Linked DNA regions of Homo sapiens: region 1 is linked to region 2. Evidence: fine-mapped expression QTL. Tissue or cell type: hippocampus. Region 2 holds a variant in brackets; the other region holds the start of a gene. All regions are shown on one strand. Distances are from middle to middle.

Region 1 (8,076 bases), 69 kb before region 2:
AAACATGCTCTTTCTTTCTTTCCCAGAAGGATGGCAGGCTGGCCCGGCAGTACAGGAGAGAATGACCTTCATGCTGAGGGTGAAATGGGGGAGCAGTGGAGGTGGGCTTCTGACTCAAACACCCTTTGGCTCTGGGGCCTTGGGAAAGACACACAATTCTTGGAGCATTGGCATCCTTGTCTGTTGAAGATATGAGATAATGCCCACCTCTTGGGTTTGGTGTGGGAATTAACTGATGTAACATATGTGAGGTTCCTGGCACAGGGTCTGTCACGTGGAAGACACGTTTGCTTTCCTGCCCCTTCCCACGGTCAGTGCAGCAGGGAGCATATACTTTTAGAAGTGTGTTTGTATTTACAATTTGTCCTCTTTTGGCACCTCAGATAATATATCTCCATTTTAGAACTTCTCACACCTTGAGAATCTCACTACCTATATAAATACTTTCCTTCTTGTTATCCAAAAGCTGCATTAAAATTTGATCTCATGATTTTAATCACTGATACTTATTTTTTACAAACTCAACATTTAGGAAAATAGGAATTTGACCAAAGTTGTTCTAAAGCAAGACCTCAGATGACTCCATAAAGTTAATAACGTAAGCAGCCAGTGTCCTGGCAGATAAAATACTCTGTAGGCCAATCCCTGTGGGCCAGTGAGAAGGTGGATAAATGGCCTAGGTTGTGTGTGTAAGTGTGGACATAGACCTCTTTAAGATGTTAAATTCTGCGGGTTTTTCTTGAGCACTGTCCTGTGCTTTAGCATTGTCCTTGCTCCTAGAGGCCTGAAGATGACCCATCAGCCTTGGTCTCCCTCTTCAGAGCAGGGCTTGCCTTCTAGAGGTCAGGAGAGTGGGGCAGCCTGGGTGGAGGTGGGGGGCCTGTTCCAGCTGCCCATGGCCTTAGATAACTGATCACTGGGCTTGTCTTAGGAGCCAGGGCCCCACTTGGAGTGTTGGTTTCTTTTGCATTAGGGGAAGCCAGCATTCCAGAGGATACGGGAGAAGAGTGGGTGCACTCTTGGTTACCCAGTTTTCTAAAACCTCCCAAGTCCACCCTTTTCCTTAGCTGGCTCTTGTTCAAGGGGGATCTTAGCCTCCACCACTGGTTTGCTTCTGCTGGAGTCTCCCTGGCCCCAGCTCCTTCCCTTTAACTCCTACTATTCCTCTTCAGGGACCTAGGATCAGCTGCCCCCAATCTCACCCTTCCTGACTGTGCCCACCATTATCAATGTGGCAGAATTTGAAACCTTCCATATTCTGACTGCTGTAGAGCCAGGCCTTTTCTTCAAAACTCCCATGAGAAAAACCGACCTCCACTCTTCTCAGAATAAAAGCTTTCTCTTGTCACCTCCTGCTGCCCTCTGATCTCAGGAGGCTCAGTAAAATAGGAGTTAAGCACCCCAGGGCTACACAGGGGTTTTTTATTCTCACTCCCTCAGTTCCATGGCCCTCACTGGGATGAGTAACTTCCAGGGTTGCCTGCCCGGGCCTGCAGGCCTGTACGCCAAGTGAGTAGGGCAGGCAGGGGGATGGAAAGTGGGGATGCAGGCCTCATTTAAGAGGCCAGCATCCCAGCAATCAGGGCCTGGCTGACAGGCTCCTAGACACAGAGACCAAACCTGGAAGCCCCATAAGGGGCAAATGTATATCGCATTAACTATACCCCCAAGCCCACAGACACACAGCCAGGTGAACATCAGTGTGATCCCACAGAGTGGCCAGGACAGATGGGGAAGCAGCTCATATCACTAGGAAAATAAAAAGGTAATTTTAAAAACACAAAGTGTGAACTATTTCAAATTCCTCTCTAGCCAGTGTGTGTGCACATGCGCATGTTGTGTGTGTGAGTTATTCACTGTGTATCTATCCCCAGAGTGCTACTCAGGTCAGCAGGAGCATTTTTGTGTTTCTTGAATCACATAAGCAAGTCCCTATGCCCAATTAGTGTCTATGGTCTCTGGAGAAGTCCAGAGAGGGGCCAGAGGCCCCAGGGAGTTTCTGGAAGAGAGCAAGTGGATCCTGTGCCCAGGGGAAATGAGACTGGACATGGCTGATCCTTGGCAAGATATCTGAGACAGCAAATGACTCTCCTGCCCCTTCTAGGGATGCTTCTGGCCCCAGGTCCTCGCTCTGTCCTGTCACTGCCCCATCTTTGATCAGGCCATAGTCCCAGGCAGGTCCCTGGACTGGTGAATACACCCATCCTGTGTCTCACCTTCTTGAAGGCTTTGTGACTTTCAGACTGAAGAGTGGCTAAATCTATCCAGGCTAATGTGTTAACAATAAAGGGAAGAAAGCATTTCTCTCTACTTGTGGGGCTTTCTCCCCCTCTGGGGTACAGAATGTACATTTTAACTGGGGTATTCTGGAGACGATGTGTCCACTTCTGCTATTGCTATCAAGGAATGCCTTTTATTTCAGTCCAGGCAGGAAAGAGGCAGTGTCATGTCAGAGGAGGGATTCTGGGGGCGGCAGAGCCAGGCAGGGCACAGAAATTGCGCCATATTGCTACCTAGCTGGGCTGTTCCCTCACACATATGGTGGAGGAAGGGAGAAGAGAGGTGCTGAGATCTGGGCCCTCAGCAGGAAGGTGTCCCTCCTGTCCCACCAGTATGGGGCTCCTCCAGGGGTGGTACAGGCCAGCAGCCTGAGCACCAAATCCTTCCCATCTTAGCGGCTCCAGCCAGTGTGGCTGCCACATGCAGGGACTGGAACCCACACGTGCACAGCTGGGGGTCATGCAGGGCAGGCAAGCGACTGATGGTGACAAAGACAGTCCCTGACGTGCCTGCCGAATGTCTGCCTTCCCCAGGACACCCGCCTTGGCGAGCCTCCCATCCGCGATTCACGCACACCTTCATGCACACTGGCACGCTGAAACCCGGACTGAGGTTACTGCGGGCTTGGGGCTTCCGGAGAAGACGCAGGGGCAGGGCCTAGAAGGAGGGGCCGGAGGAGCCAGGGAGTCCTGGCCTGAGAGGAGGGGTAGGAGCCGTGGGTGGGGCAGGTTCCCTAAGCGGGGAGGGCGATGGGGGCTGACACTAGGGGGTGTCAGGGAGCGAGGAAATTGACCCGGCAGGATGAGGGCGTGGCGAGGGGGGCCTGGAGCTTGGCGACCCCGGGAAGGGGCTCCGGGAGGGTCTGGGGAATGAATGGGGCAACATATGGCGGCTACTGGGGATACCTGGGGCGGGGAGGGTCTGGGAGGGTCTGTGATACGGATCTGCGGAGCTGTCCGCCCTACCTGTCCGGGGAGCCGCCGTCTGGGGCCAAGGGCTCCCCCTCGGGCCGTTGCTCCCCTTCCGGACCCGGGCCGGGAGCCGGACCGCTGCCGCCGCTGCTGCTGCTGCTGTCACCGTCCATGCCCGTGGGCGGCACCGCTGTCCGGGCGCTGGTGCTGAAGCCGCGGCGGCGGCGGCGGCGGCGGCGGTGGCGGCGGCAGCGGCGGCGGGGTGCTCGTGCGCATGCGTAGGCTCTGAGCGGGCCGGTCGCTGGGCGGGGCGAGGAGGAGCCCAGCCAATGGGCGCGGCGCCGCTGCCGGAGCGGAGCGCTCTGTCTCTAAGATCCCGGGGCTGCGGATGTGAGCGCCCCTCTGCTCCCGCCAGGCCAGAGAGCCGCTGTTAGGAGTCCGGCCGTGCAACCCTTCCTAGCGGCCTCGGCCTTCCCGTAAGGAACCAGAGAGCGCGACACATGCAGAGATCCTCACAAATCAAAACGCAGACCCTTCCAGCCGGATAGAGGGCGAGCTCCACGCCCGCACTTCACCACGCTGGACGCCCCGGGTCGAGGCGGGCGGCTTCAGGCCTGCGAGGTTCCCGGCTCGCTCAGCGCCCTCCTCCCCTCCCCAGTGGGGCGAGGCATCAGGTTGGGTCTTTCTTCCCATCCTTCTGGACTTCGACTTGGACCTGGGTGTGCACCCCTTAGATGCGGAGCCCTGACTCCGTTACTCAAGTGCGCAGTCTGGTGAAGGAGGTGGGGGAAGAAGAGAGGCGCTCAGATCATCCCCAGCTCCTTCTCTTTCTTTTTTAAAATTTAAAAGGTTTATAAAGCAAACAAATCACAGTAAGCTAAGGTTAATTTTTGATTCAGGGGCACATGTGCAGGTTTGTTATAAGGGTATATTGAGTGATCCCAGATCCTTTTTTATAGTCACCGCTGCCCCCCCACCCCACCTCAGCCTGGGAGGTGCCCAATAGCCACTGACTCCAGGGCACTGGGAGGTGCCCAATAGCCACTGACTCCAGTGCCACCTCCCCCACCAGGGAGTAGCTGTGAGTAGAGCACATTTGGGTATGATGGACTGTGGACAGGCCTGGCTAAGGGGTCTAGAACTAGAATAGATATTGGCAGTGTGAGAAGCCTGGGGGGCTGGGAGTGGAGAGGATCCTGGATGTGGGATTTGACTAGGCAGAAAGGGTTTTACAGCAAGCAGGCTGTTCAGGGCCTGGTTACTTGTGCAGGGAGAGGCCTTGGTTGAAGACATGGGGCTGAGGAGAGAGTCAGGAACACTTGGACTATAGGTATCCCTAAAATGTGTGCCAATGCCAGTCCGTGTAAGACACAGGTCATAAGAAATGGGGTGGAAGAATCTAGAGGTGTAGAAGTGTTGGGTCTGCCCTGAATAGCTTATAGTTTGGTTGGAGAGATAAAGGGCCAGCCCATAAATTGCTGCCAATAGGCAAGATATGGTGAGGCCCATGAGGTGGTTGAGAAGGGGACAGTATGCAAAAAGGAAGGACCTCTTTCTTCCTAATAGGCCTTAGAGAAGGCTTCTTGGAGATGGTGGGGCTTCAGCTGGCTTGGAAGAAAGGGTGGGCTTTGAAATGTGGAGGTAGGAGAGAGGGAAGGCCTTCCTGACCTGGGGTGGGGGCATTCTTCCTTACCTGTGCAAACAAAGGTAAGGGGGCTGGAAAGTTCAGTGTATTTTAAGGGAATGGTGAGAAACCATCTGGATTGGAGGGAGGCTTCTGGTCTGTAGAGTGAGGCATGCAAGCTGCAACCTTGGAAGGCCCACCAGATCTGGATGTACAGGATGGCATAGAGGTAATGAGGCCACACTTGAAGTTCCTCGATGGGAGGGCACAGGAGTGAAAAGGAAAGGAGAGGTGACCTTACACAGCCATTTATAGTGAGCACCATGGCATTAAGCTTCTGAGAATGCCAGGATGGTTGCCCCATCTTCACAACTAGGGAGCTTGGAGACAACTGGGTCCTCTGACAGCCAGGTTGGATATGAAGGAAGACAGGCTCTTTAAAGAATAGAATGTGGCCTCTAGGAGGCTGTTTATTAGGAAGAGAAGATTGTGGTTTAGGCCTCATTCCAGGTCAGCTGGGCAATTCTCTCAGGCTTGCCATCTTGTGTCCTGTTTTCTTCTACTTCCTCAGTGATGTGGACCAGGGGGTGGGTGACCTGGGCCATGGCCAGGGGGAGGCCCGCAGGGCCCTGGACCATGGTGGGGGGGTGGCCCGCAGGGCCCTGGGCCATGGCCAGGGGGTGGCCCGCAGGGCCCTGGACCATGGTGGGGGGGTGGCCCGCAGGGCCCTGGGCCATGGCCAGGGGGTGGCCCGCAGTGACCTGGAGGATGGCCATGCCCCCCACAGTGGCAGTGCCCCTGTGGAAAGTCAAATGAACAATGTCAGAGTCAGAGGTCAGGGCTAAGCTTACCTGAGATCAGCTCTCCCTCACTCCACTTCCCTGGGGGACTCAGGATTTCTAGGCAAGTAAGGAGTTGCGGTGGAGGGCTGGGGGCATGGGTAGCATGTCCCGTGCCTTTTGCCTTGGTGAGGCCAGAACACTGAGCAGATAAAAGGCAAGCAACCTAGATTTATTGGTTTCTATTCTTTGAGCCAAGATATGACTCCCGCTCCCTGTACCTCGATTTATTTTATTTGCAACTAAGAAGCAGAATTATTTCATCTTCTCCTTTCTCTCACCCAGGAACCCTTGCAGAGTGATTAGAGGCTTTGCCATGCTAGGAACTGCAGGCTCATTGTACTTAGGAGCAAGGGTGAGGCTAGAGGAGGCTACAGAAGAGCTCTTTGAAGGCCAGGGGCAGGGGGAGACAGGAGGCTGGGTCAGGGGAGATGAAAGAGCTGAGGAGGGGAAGAAGGAAGACAGTTGGAGGATGAGAAGACACGGAGGGTAGGAGGTGGCAAGGTGAGGATGTATGTATTCTTTTTATAGGTAGTGTGTATGTGTGTAGACGGTGTGTGCCATATTTATATAAAATAGCTATGTTTGTGTACGTGTGCATGGGTGGGTTCATATTCAAGCTTGGTATGTACACAGATACGTGCATGGAGTGCATGGTTCTGTGTACATGAGTATGTGCGAGCTCATACCTGTTCCTGAGCGGATGCCAGACCCAAGAAATCAGGAAGAATAGAAAGTAAAATCAAAGCTTTTCTGCCTCAGTCAGAAGAGGTCTGGAAAAAGTGTGGTTTAACCTTCCATCTTGGCTGGAATCATTCCTGAAGTCCCAAGGCCAGGGGAGTTTTTTGTTTTTTTTTTGTTTTTTTAACTTTTTGCCACAAGCCCAGGGGGCAGGCAAGAGATACCACCTTGCTTCTGTGGTAGGGGACTCGGGGTCTGGGGCCCTGTGGAGCAGGGCGGGGCTATGCTCCCACTGTCTGGGCTGGATAACTCCCCAGTCTCCTTCTGCCTCCTAGGGCTTGATTAGGGCTTGGTACCAGTGGGGAAGAGGCAGGCTCCAGGGCTGGGCGCTTTCCTGTGACCATGGTAGAGCAGCCCCTGCCCCATCCAGGCTCAGTGATGCCTGGAAACAGCCACTTCCCACCCCACCTGCCTCTCTGCCTATGGCTCTTTTGTTTGGGGGTTGGCACACAGACCAGGCCTAGGAACTGAGTCTGCTGGTGGTAGCCAGTGGGTGAGAAGAGGTGGAGGAGACGCAGTCTCCTTTCTCTGGCAGGAGTAGGTCCTAGGGGCCCCATAGTGTGGTTGGAGTTTGGGAGCAAGCCAGCTATCCAGCAAGGCTGTGGGGGTAGCCAGGAAAGCAGAAAAGCATAGCACAGGCGGGGAAGCAGCAGGAGAGAGGATGGGCTGCTAGGGCAGGGAGGGGACGTGAGGAAAGGAGAGAGACAGATGGGAAAACAGAGGAGAGAACGCCAAGAAGGCTGCAGCCAGCAGGGGGTGGAGGAGTGCAGCGCTGCCCACCCCACCCCCACTCCACGGGGCTGCTGCCTGAGCCTGCTCCCTTCTTTTCATTTGGGGGAAGTGGTGGCTGCTCCCTGAGGGTCTAGGAAGGAGGCTAGGGGTCTGGAGGACATGACAGTGGGAGGAAAAAGGGGAGACCATTGGGGGAACTTTCCTACCTTCGGACCTGTGGGAGAGGAAGGGAAAAAAAAGAAGCAGCTTTGGTCATTTGGTTCTGCAGTAAAAAAAAACCTGTCTTCTCCCTGGCACTAAGGATTTTGTGCCCACACCCCTAACCCAACAGGGCCTCTCAGACATGGTCACTTGCCTGACAATCATTCCTTCATTCATTCTCTCAGCAAAGATACATATTGGAAGTCAATATAAGGTTCAGCAGTGTGTCCCTGTGTGCTCAAGGGCTGGCTGAGTCCTCCTGGGTGGAGTGGCGCCAGTTAGGAGGTATGGGTTCTTGTCTCAACTCTGTCAGCCTGGAGGTGCTCCATGGTGGCCAACCCTGTCATCCACCTGATTCTTGCTTCTACCTCCAGGCCAGCAGCCCTGCCAACCTCCCCATCTGTCCTCTGCCCCTGTCACGCCCCACGTATCTCGGCCCAATCTCTGCTCAGCCTCTCAGAGCTGTTTGTTGTCTCCTGTTTATGACCTTCTGTTCTCAGCTCTTGGCCTTTGCTCATGCCTCCTCCCACTTGGAAATCTCCCTGGAGCAGCTGCGTGTTGCCCTCATGCAGGAAATCCACATGGGAGCCATCCAGGCTGCCCAGCTGTGGGTCCACTGGGCTCCTGCAGCACCCACCTGAGTGGTCCTGCATGTTCTGAAGTGCCCCATTGGTGTGGGAATCACCTGCTACTTCTTAAAGGCTAGGACGGTCTTTTGTTCATTTCGAGGGAAGCCGATGGCACAGCT
Region 2 (8,076 bases):
GGATCCAGATGGGGCATCCTGGAGTGGGTGAGGACAGGGGAGACTTCCAGCCACATCTCCATATACACTATGTTGTAATGTCCTGTGCACCCACCCAGATCTCACTGTGGCCCTCGCCAACCCCATTAAGTTCTTCAGTGCCCATGACACGAAGTCTGTGAAGCTCAAGGAGGCCATGGGAGGTCTGCCTGAGGTCTGTGTTGCCTGCACTGCTGCCAGGGGCTCACCAGAGATTAGCCCTATTTATGGGAGAGGCTGGGGAGAGGGCCGAGTCCCAGGCTCGGGGAGAGAGGGCTGTCAAGCCACCTTCCTGACCTGCTCTCCCTACACAGAAGCCCTTCCCACTGGCGAGTCCAGTTGCCAGCCAGGTCAATGGGGCGTTGGCCCCAACGAGCAATGGGTCACCAGGTATGAGCTTCGGTCCGCACACCTACTGGGGGCACCTCCACCTCTGCACCCACAGGCACTTCCCTTTAAAAAATTTCACCTAGGGAAAGTGCGGGGCAGGGGGCACATACTGCGACTCCCAGGGGGCGGTGTGGAGGAGGCGAACGGAGCCAAGGGGCCCCCCAGAGCACCTGACAGCCCAGCCCGTGGCTCTTGCAGCAGCCAGGGCCGGGGCCAGGGAAGAGGCTATGAAAGAAGCTGCGGGTAAGGCCTGCTGAGCCCGGTGATCTCGGGGATGAGCCTGGGGCGGGTCCGGGGCTCCTTGGGGGTTGGACGGGCAGGACGGCCTGGCCGGTGTTGCGCCTCACCCGGGCCTCCGCAGAGCCGCGGACCGCCAGCCTGGAGGAGCTCCGGGAGCTAAAGGGCGTGGTGAAGCTGCAGCGGCGGCACGAGAAGGAGCTGCGAGAGTTGGAGCGGCGCGGAGCGCGGCGCTGGGAGGAGCTGCTGCAGCGGGGCGCGGCGCAGCTGGCGGAGCTCGGGCCACCGGGCGTGGGGGGCGTCGGGGCCTGCAAGCTCGGTCCCGGCAAGGGCTCTCGCAAGAAGAGGTAAGGCTCGTGGCGGTGCCCTGCCCTCTGCAGCGCGGGTGGCGCAGGATCTCAGGGCCTGTCCCCACGTGGCCTCCCCAGGAGCCTGCCCCGCGAGGAGAGCGCCGGAGCCGCGCCGGGCGAGGGCCCTGAGGGCGTGGACGGGCGCGTGCGGGAGCTGAAAGACAGGCTGGAGCTGGAGCTGCTGCGGCAGGGCGAGGAGCAGTACGAGTGCGTTCTGAAGCGCAAGGAGCAGCACGTGGCCGAGGTGGCCGGGAGGGGCAGGGCGACAACCCCACCAGCCCCACCGACCCCACCCCCCATGGACCCCATTCGCCCCTCTCACCGACCCAACCCCCTCACCGACTCCCCTCCACCGACCCCCGCCCCCCGTACTCCCTCTGAACAACAAAGGGCTTCTCGCCAAGCTTACTTCCTCTCCCTGCAGCAAATCTCCAAAATGATGGAGCTGGCCAGAGAGAAACAGGCGGCAGAGCTGAAGGCCCTGAAGGAGACGTCGGAGAAGTACGACTGCCTCCCTCCCACACCTGCTTCGCCTCCCAGCAAGGGCTCAGCCGCACAAAACAGCTCCTTCATGCCTGTCTCTCTGCAGCGACACCAAAGAGATGAAGAAAAAGCTGGAGACAAAGAGACTGGAGCGGATCCAGGGCATGACCAAAGTCACCACAGACAAGATGGCCCAGGAGAGGTGAGCCCTGGAGGGGAGGCCCAGGGCTGGGCAGACCCCACTTCAGGTGGAAAGGGGCCTCTCTACAAATGGATCCTGACTCACTTCCCAAAGATGCATCTGTCCCCTGGCTCTCCAAAAAGCGGATCCCCCCTGTCACCTTTGATCAGAGTGTCCTCCTCAGACAAAACACGGAGGCCAACACTACATGGGCAGAGCTCTGGAGGCAGCCAAGCCTGCAGGGAGGGAGCTGAGGCCTTGGGATTGTAGCCTGTCCACTGTGGTGGCACTGTTTCCCACGGAAGGACAGTGTGTTTTGATGGGGAAATGGTTCCCTCAGAGGGCCCCAGGACTCCCAGTGGCCCCTACATACTCCTTGGGTCCCCACACCTGCCCCCAGCTGGTTCCTGCCCTATGTTGGATTTCTCATTTGCCTACATCCTGCGTAGACTTCATGTTACCCTACTCTCCCTAGGGGTTTTCTCCCTTTTCTAAAACTCCAATTACACCAACAGGTTGAAGAGAGAGATTAACAACTCCCACATCCAGGAAGTAGTGCAGGTGATCAAGCAGGTGTGTAAGGGCTGTGTCCTTCCTAAACACACACACACACACACACACACACACACTCTCTCTCTCTCTCTCTCTCTCTCTCTCTCTCTCTCTCTCTTCACAAGTAGGAAGGGGTGGCCCCAGGCCCTGACTTTGCCCTTAGGAGATGCACTGCCTAGCGCTGTCCATGCAGCTGGGGTGGCAGGGGACATCCTGGGGTTCTGGCCTGTGTATGGAGGTTGGGGTACCAGCCTGAAGGGATCTGTCTCTGGCCAGTTCTCATGTGTGGAAATGATATGGGCTAACTGGCCCATATCAGGGCCAGGGGAGGCTGGGACTGGCGAGGGTCAGGGGATGAAGAGGGAGTGAGGAAGCTTCCTGAGGTGCCAAGGAATAATGGACCTGAAGCTCCCCTAGGGATCATTAACCACAGAACACAGCTGCCACCTACTGGGTCCTGACCTGTGCCAGGCACTCTGCCAGGTGCCTCACATGAGCTGTCTTGTATAATCTTTTACAGTCCAGTGAGACAGGTGCTGCTATCCTTATCTTACAAATTTTAAAAACTACCTAATGTTAAGGAATTTGCCCAAAGTCTTACAACTAGTTAGCTGGGATTACAGCTGGATTCTGACCCAGCTTGCCTGTCTGTGTTGTCCTGATTCTCTGCCATCCACTCCCACCCAGATGACGGAGAACTTGGAGAGGCACCAGGAGAAGCTGGAGGAGAAGCAGGCGGCTTGCCTGGAACAGATACGGGAGATGGAAAAGCAGGTAACAGGTTCACTACTGGGACCCCCAGCAGAACTGAATGGGTTCCGGGTTGTAAAGGGGCCTTGCCCCAGGGAGCTGCCAGTGAGAGGGTAGGGGAAGGGGGCCATCATCCTTCACTGTGGGGTCCCGAGGCCCTTTCAAATGAGGCAGCTCTGCAGATCTCCGCCTGGTTAGGATCCCCTTTCCTGAGAGGCTCCTGATGGGCTCTACCACTCCCCCACCCTGCCTCTCACCCCAGTCTCCTGGGAGCTCCGAACATGGATATTGGGCATCTCCTGTTCCCACTGTCCAGGGAGCGAGGGTGGCCAGCAGGCCCCTCCTGAGCCAGGCAGGGGTCCTTGCTGTCTCCACAGTTCCAGAAGGAGGCGCTGGCAGAGTACGAGGCCAGGATGAAGGGTCTGGAGGCAGAGGTGAAGGAGTCGGTGAGGGCCTGCCTCAGGACCTGCTTTCCCTCCGAGGCCAAGGACAAGCCTGAGAGGGCCTGCGAGTGCCCCCCAGAGCTGTGTGAGCAGGACCCACTCATAGCAAAGGCAGATGCCCAGGAGAGCCGCCTCTGATGCCCCCATCCCACTGGGACATTTAGCAAGGAGGTTCAGCCCCTTCTCTGGGATGTGGTTCTATTCCCCCAGGAAAAAGGAGCCCCAGCCTTCTGAGGCTGTGGGAACCTGTGGCTGCCTTGGACGCTGCAGCCCCCTCCTCAACGGCCAGGCCAGAGTCTGAGACAGGACCCAGGCACCCTCACGGCAGGGCCTCTCTGGGGCCTAGAAGTCTTCTCAAGCTGACTTCCTACCTCCCCCTCCATCTCTAGATAAGTGTCATATATTTGTTGAGGGCAAAAGACTATGGACTGGAAGGCAGAAAGTGGGATCCTGGCCCCACTCTGCCTTTCCTATTGAGCAACCAGCTCTGGGCTCAGTTTCCTCACCTGGAGGGTTGGACCCACTCACCTCCACTCTAGCCCCGAACCCTCCTGCCCCAGGCTTCCAGGCCCCATCA[G/C]GCCTGCCCTGAGTTGGCCTTGTCCACTCCTTGAGGCAGATCCTGGCACTACCTCACAGCTCCCTGGGGACGGCCACTCCCTGGCTGAGGGCCCTCCCCTCCCCTCTGCCTGTCCGGAACGGGAGGCTGAAATGGAAAAGCTGCCTTGGCCCTGCTTGGCTGAGTCACAAGGGGCAGTGGGCTCTTGGGTGCTGTTCCACCCTGACCCTGGCTCACCCCTCTTCCTAGGCCTGGGGGCAGGCAGTTCCTACCATGTACCCCTCTCAGGCTGCCTGCCTGACAAGGTCAGCATCATTTGCTCTCCTGAATTTATGAGGTTTATTTATTTTTCTCTTTCCTACTCCTATTAAAGAACCTCGTCCCAGTGTTTCCTGCTTAAGCCTGGTCTCTATTCTACAGGTAGAAAATGGGGGCAGGGTAGTGGAGTGCCCCTGAAATGAAACGGGCTGGGGAAAAAAAAATCTCTTGGGAGCTGAACCCAGGGTGAGGTCCTTTCCAGAGTCCAGTGAAATGGCCCTGCCTCTGGACTTGAAGAGGATTCATTTCCCCTTCTGCTGGCCCTGATGCCACAATCACTGGAAAATTATGTCACCCCCTCTTCGCCCCCACACAGATGTGGCCCTTCATTGTCTCCACTCTCGGGGTTGGAGCAGAAGAGCTGAGTGCAAAGATGTCCCCTATTTTAGGGGGAGTTCCAAACTTTTAGGCAATCTAGGCCCCTTTAGGAAGACAGAGTGGTTGGATGCTCAGGACCCTATGGCAGCTATGGTTGACCTCAAAACTTGCTGTGGAGGGGCTTGTGGGCAGCCACTCACTGCACCGATGACATGATCCCAAATCCCAAATAGGGACAGGCACTGGCTTAGGAGGCAGAGGGGGATTGATTCTGGGAAGAGGTTGTTTTCTTATTAGAGTTACAGCACATGCCGTTAGCTGTGAGCACCTGTTCCTTTGGAAAGTAAACAGGTCCTCCTGCCCCCACCCTGCCATCCCATCCCTCTGGGAGTCTGACCTCTGGGATTCTACCAGGCCCTGGCTGTAGGGTGAGGTGAGGGGGCTGATCATTTACTGGGCTAAGGCCTAGCATTGATCAGCCTGCTCCCTACATCATTACAGACTGGATACGCTGGGGCAGACCACCTATACCCCAGGGTGGTGCCCTATGTTCAACCCTTCTGCCAGGCACTGGGCTGTAAAGGTGAGGATTCGGGCCTAGAGGAACTCACTGACCCAGGCATGTGCACGTAAGCCAGAGCCAGAGCCCAATGGAGCCCACTGGGCAGCCCCCAGATTTTGCTGATGACTGTACAGGAGAAGGAAAAGCTGCCTTCCCCTCACCTCTGGGCCAGGCCACGCAGAGTCTCTGGGCTCCCAGTCTGGAGCTGGGTAGCCCAGGAATGGGGAAGGCGATGCAATCCTGCCCCCGGAGAGGCCTCTGCATAGCCGACTGGGGCCTTCCCATGTGGCCAGGCCTAGATACCTGCCTCCCTGCTTTCCTCCCAAAAAGGCAAGGTGTCCCTTAGGCAAATGCCATCTCTGGGTCCTGGAGATGAATTAGTCTCTGGCTGCAGGGGATGTATAGAAGAAGAGTTGACGCCTTCCCTTGGGGTACTGGGGCAGGTGAAGGACACCTGGGTTCCATCACTGCTGTGTATCTATGGGACTGGGGCAAGGCTCCCTTCACGCATCATGCCTCAGTTTCACCTTTTGCACAAAGAGAAGGGTCCCTACCCCTTTCCCAATTCCATTGCTGACTCAGACTCGAGTCCCCTGCTGACTCACCCCGCCCCCTGCATCCCCTGAGCAGCCCTCTGGATCTCCCAGACACATGCCACCAGGCCCAACCCTGCCAAGCTGGTGCAACGTGACAGCGTGAGGGGGCTGGTGACACTTGAGGAAAGAAGGGGCCTGAGAGGGAGGCAGTTGCAGACAGAGTGGCAGACCACACTGAGGCATCTTGGGGAGGGAGCCCTTCTGCCAGCCTGGGGCCTGCTGGGAGGACAGGCCCAGCAGGTGGGACAGGAGGGGAGAGGAGGGGAGGTGAGTATGACGTGCCTGCCTGCCCCCTGCCTGCCTGGGCTCCATCTCCTGTCAGCCTTCAGCTCCCTAAGCGACAGCTTCTAATTCCGGCTGTTGGTGCCTCTGTGCTCTGCAGCAAAGTCTCAGCTTTTTTTCAGCTTTGCTGTTTCTTTTCTGTTCAGAACATACTGAGCCCATAGAGAAGTCAGAGCAAAGGCTCCAGGGCTCGAGACCTGGCACCACCACCCCCTTCCTGCCATGGGAACCAACTGCTCCTTCCAAAGGGTACCCAGCACAGCACTTTCTGCCCCAACTCTTCTTCCCTGGAACTGTCTCAATCCACCACGGAGGAACAGGAACAGAAATGAAGCTCAGTTGTCTCAGGGAGGAGGGGCTCTTCAGGACCAAGAAAGTGCCCATTCTGGGTTTCTGCTGCTTCTCTCCTCCACCTGGGGGGGTGTGAGTCATGGCTTGTCAGGCTGGTGGGCCACACACAGGTTCCAGGGGTACACCCTCCTCTGACCTTGGAAATAGAAGGGAAGAAAGCAATTTCCCTCACAGTGCTGAAAAGAGAAGTTGAGTCATAAAGGGAAGAAAAGCCTTTCTTCTGCTGAGTAAAGGAGAGCATTCCTGCCCAGTTACTGGGGGTGGAGAGTCTCTATCCATTCCTGGGGGCCACCCCAGAAGGGGGCCCTAGCTCTGGGGCGGGAGCAGCTTTGAGGGCTGCACTCTAAATAACTATGCAGCTCTAGAAAACAAAACAAAACAAAATAAAAAAAATGAAATAACTATGCAGCTCTTTCCCTGACACTTTCTAACTTGTTCTTGTGTAAAGCAGGCAGGGCTGGTATTTATCAGTCTCATTTTGCAGCTGAGAATATGCAGGCTTGGAGCCACACTGCTAGTAAATGCCTTCAAGCTGGGACTTAACGCTGATGTCAGATCTGTGGCCTTTTCATGACACCAGGAAAGAAAATTGGCAGATCCCTGACCAAAGGCTTAACAAATGCAAAAAGAGAAAAGGGGGGCTTCGTAGTGGATGCAGGTACACATCACACGCTCCTCACGTGACAGAGGGGAGTGGGAGCCTCTGCTCCATGGCCTGGGTGCCAAATTCAAGGTGGACATCCCCGGAGCCTGGGAGCTGGAGAGAGGCAAGGGGTTCAGGGTGCAGGGCCATGAGCCCACTTTGCCACGCCTATCTATGCCCAGTACCTTTCCCCAGGCATCTCCTACTCCAAAGCATCTGCTCAGACTGAGAACACCATCATTCTTCCCTTATTTCCTGTCTCTGATAGGAAGGGACCCCTTAAAGCAGCCCTCAATAGTGTCCCCTGAAGGTTTATCCTGCTTCCAAGCCTTTGCCTCCAGAACCCGTCTGGAATTACTTCCTTTTTTTTTTTTTTTTTTTTTTTTTTTTGACGGAGTCTCACTCTGTCTCCAGGCTGGAGTGCAGTGGCGTGATCTCGGCTCACTGCAACCTCTGCCTCCCAGGTTCAAGCAATTCTCCTGCGTCAGCCTCCCAAGTAGCAGGGACTACAGGCGCGTGCCACCGCGCCCAGCTAATTTTTGTATTTTTAGTAGAGACGGGGTTTCACCATGTTGGCCAGGATGGTCTCGATCCCTTGATCTCGTGATCCGCCCGCCTCGGCCTCCCAAAGTGCTGGGATTACAGGCGTGAGCCACTGCACCCGGCCTGGGATTCCTTCCTTCTTTCTTTTGCAGCCAGATCCCGCACATCCTTGAAGGCCTATCTTTAAAAGGCCCGAGAGCCCTCTCCTGCCCACAACTCCATCTTTTCATCCAAGGACTGTGTTGGTACGTATTTAGCAGAAGAATTCAGCCCTCAGGTGACAACGTCCATTTTTTAAGTCCCAGTGTTGTCTTCTTAAGAGGTGGAACGTCTCGCACCCAGAACCGAGATTCTGTCTCTCTCTTACCCGCTGCCGGCAACAAAATGTGCGGCTCATGAAAAGTCTCAGTAAATTCTGCAGCTGATAACTGCTTTACTCCTTACTTTACAAATATCCATTCCAACCCTACTCACACCCTCCCCACCACCCACACCCAGGCTCT

The links. PIP is the estimated chance that this variant, and not a neighbour inherited with it, causes the effect.
Region 1: it holds the start of DISP2, and the variant in region 2 is fine-mapped to the expression of DISP2 in hippocampus (GTEx, PIP 0.97).

Annotation. Positions count from the first base shown.
Region 1 is chr15:40,353,610-40,361,685 of GRCh38, reverse strand. DISP2 (dispatched RND transporter family member 2) reads right to left here and starts at 3,467. Exons shown (of 8, transcript NM_033510.3): 1 at 3,246-3,467. The coding sequence starts at 3,364. It overlaps PHGR1 (proline, histidine and glycine rich 1), which reads right to left. Exons shown (of 4, transcript NM_001145643.2): 3 at 7,334-7,341; 4 at 5,252-5,613. The coding sequence ends at 5,383. It overlaps LOC124903472 (a long non-coding RNA gene), which reads left to right. Exons shown (of 4, transcript XR_007064597.1): 4 at 1-1,780. RefSeq lists a silencer at 3,287-3,546 and an enhancer at 6,757-7,282.
Region 2 is chr15:40,284,181-40,292,256 of GRCh38, reverse strand. It overlaps PLCB2 (phospholipase C beta 2), which reads left to right. Exons shown (of 32, transcript NM_004573.3): 23 at 99-193; 24 at 333-408; 25 at 607-651; 26 at 770-992; 27 at 1,074-1,239; 28 at 1,420-1,496; 29 at 1,585-1,680; 30 at 2,175-2,232; 31 at 2,899-2,985; 32 at 3,339-4,348. The coding sequence ends at 3,542. Among named protein-coding and RNA genes, the nearest start is that of ANKRD63, 5.2 kb to the right of the region's middle. RefSeq lists enhancers at 1-404, 405-950. The variant G/C (reference allele first, on the strand shown) is at 3,982.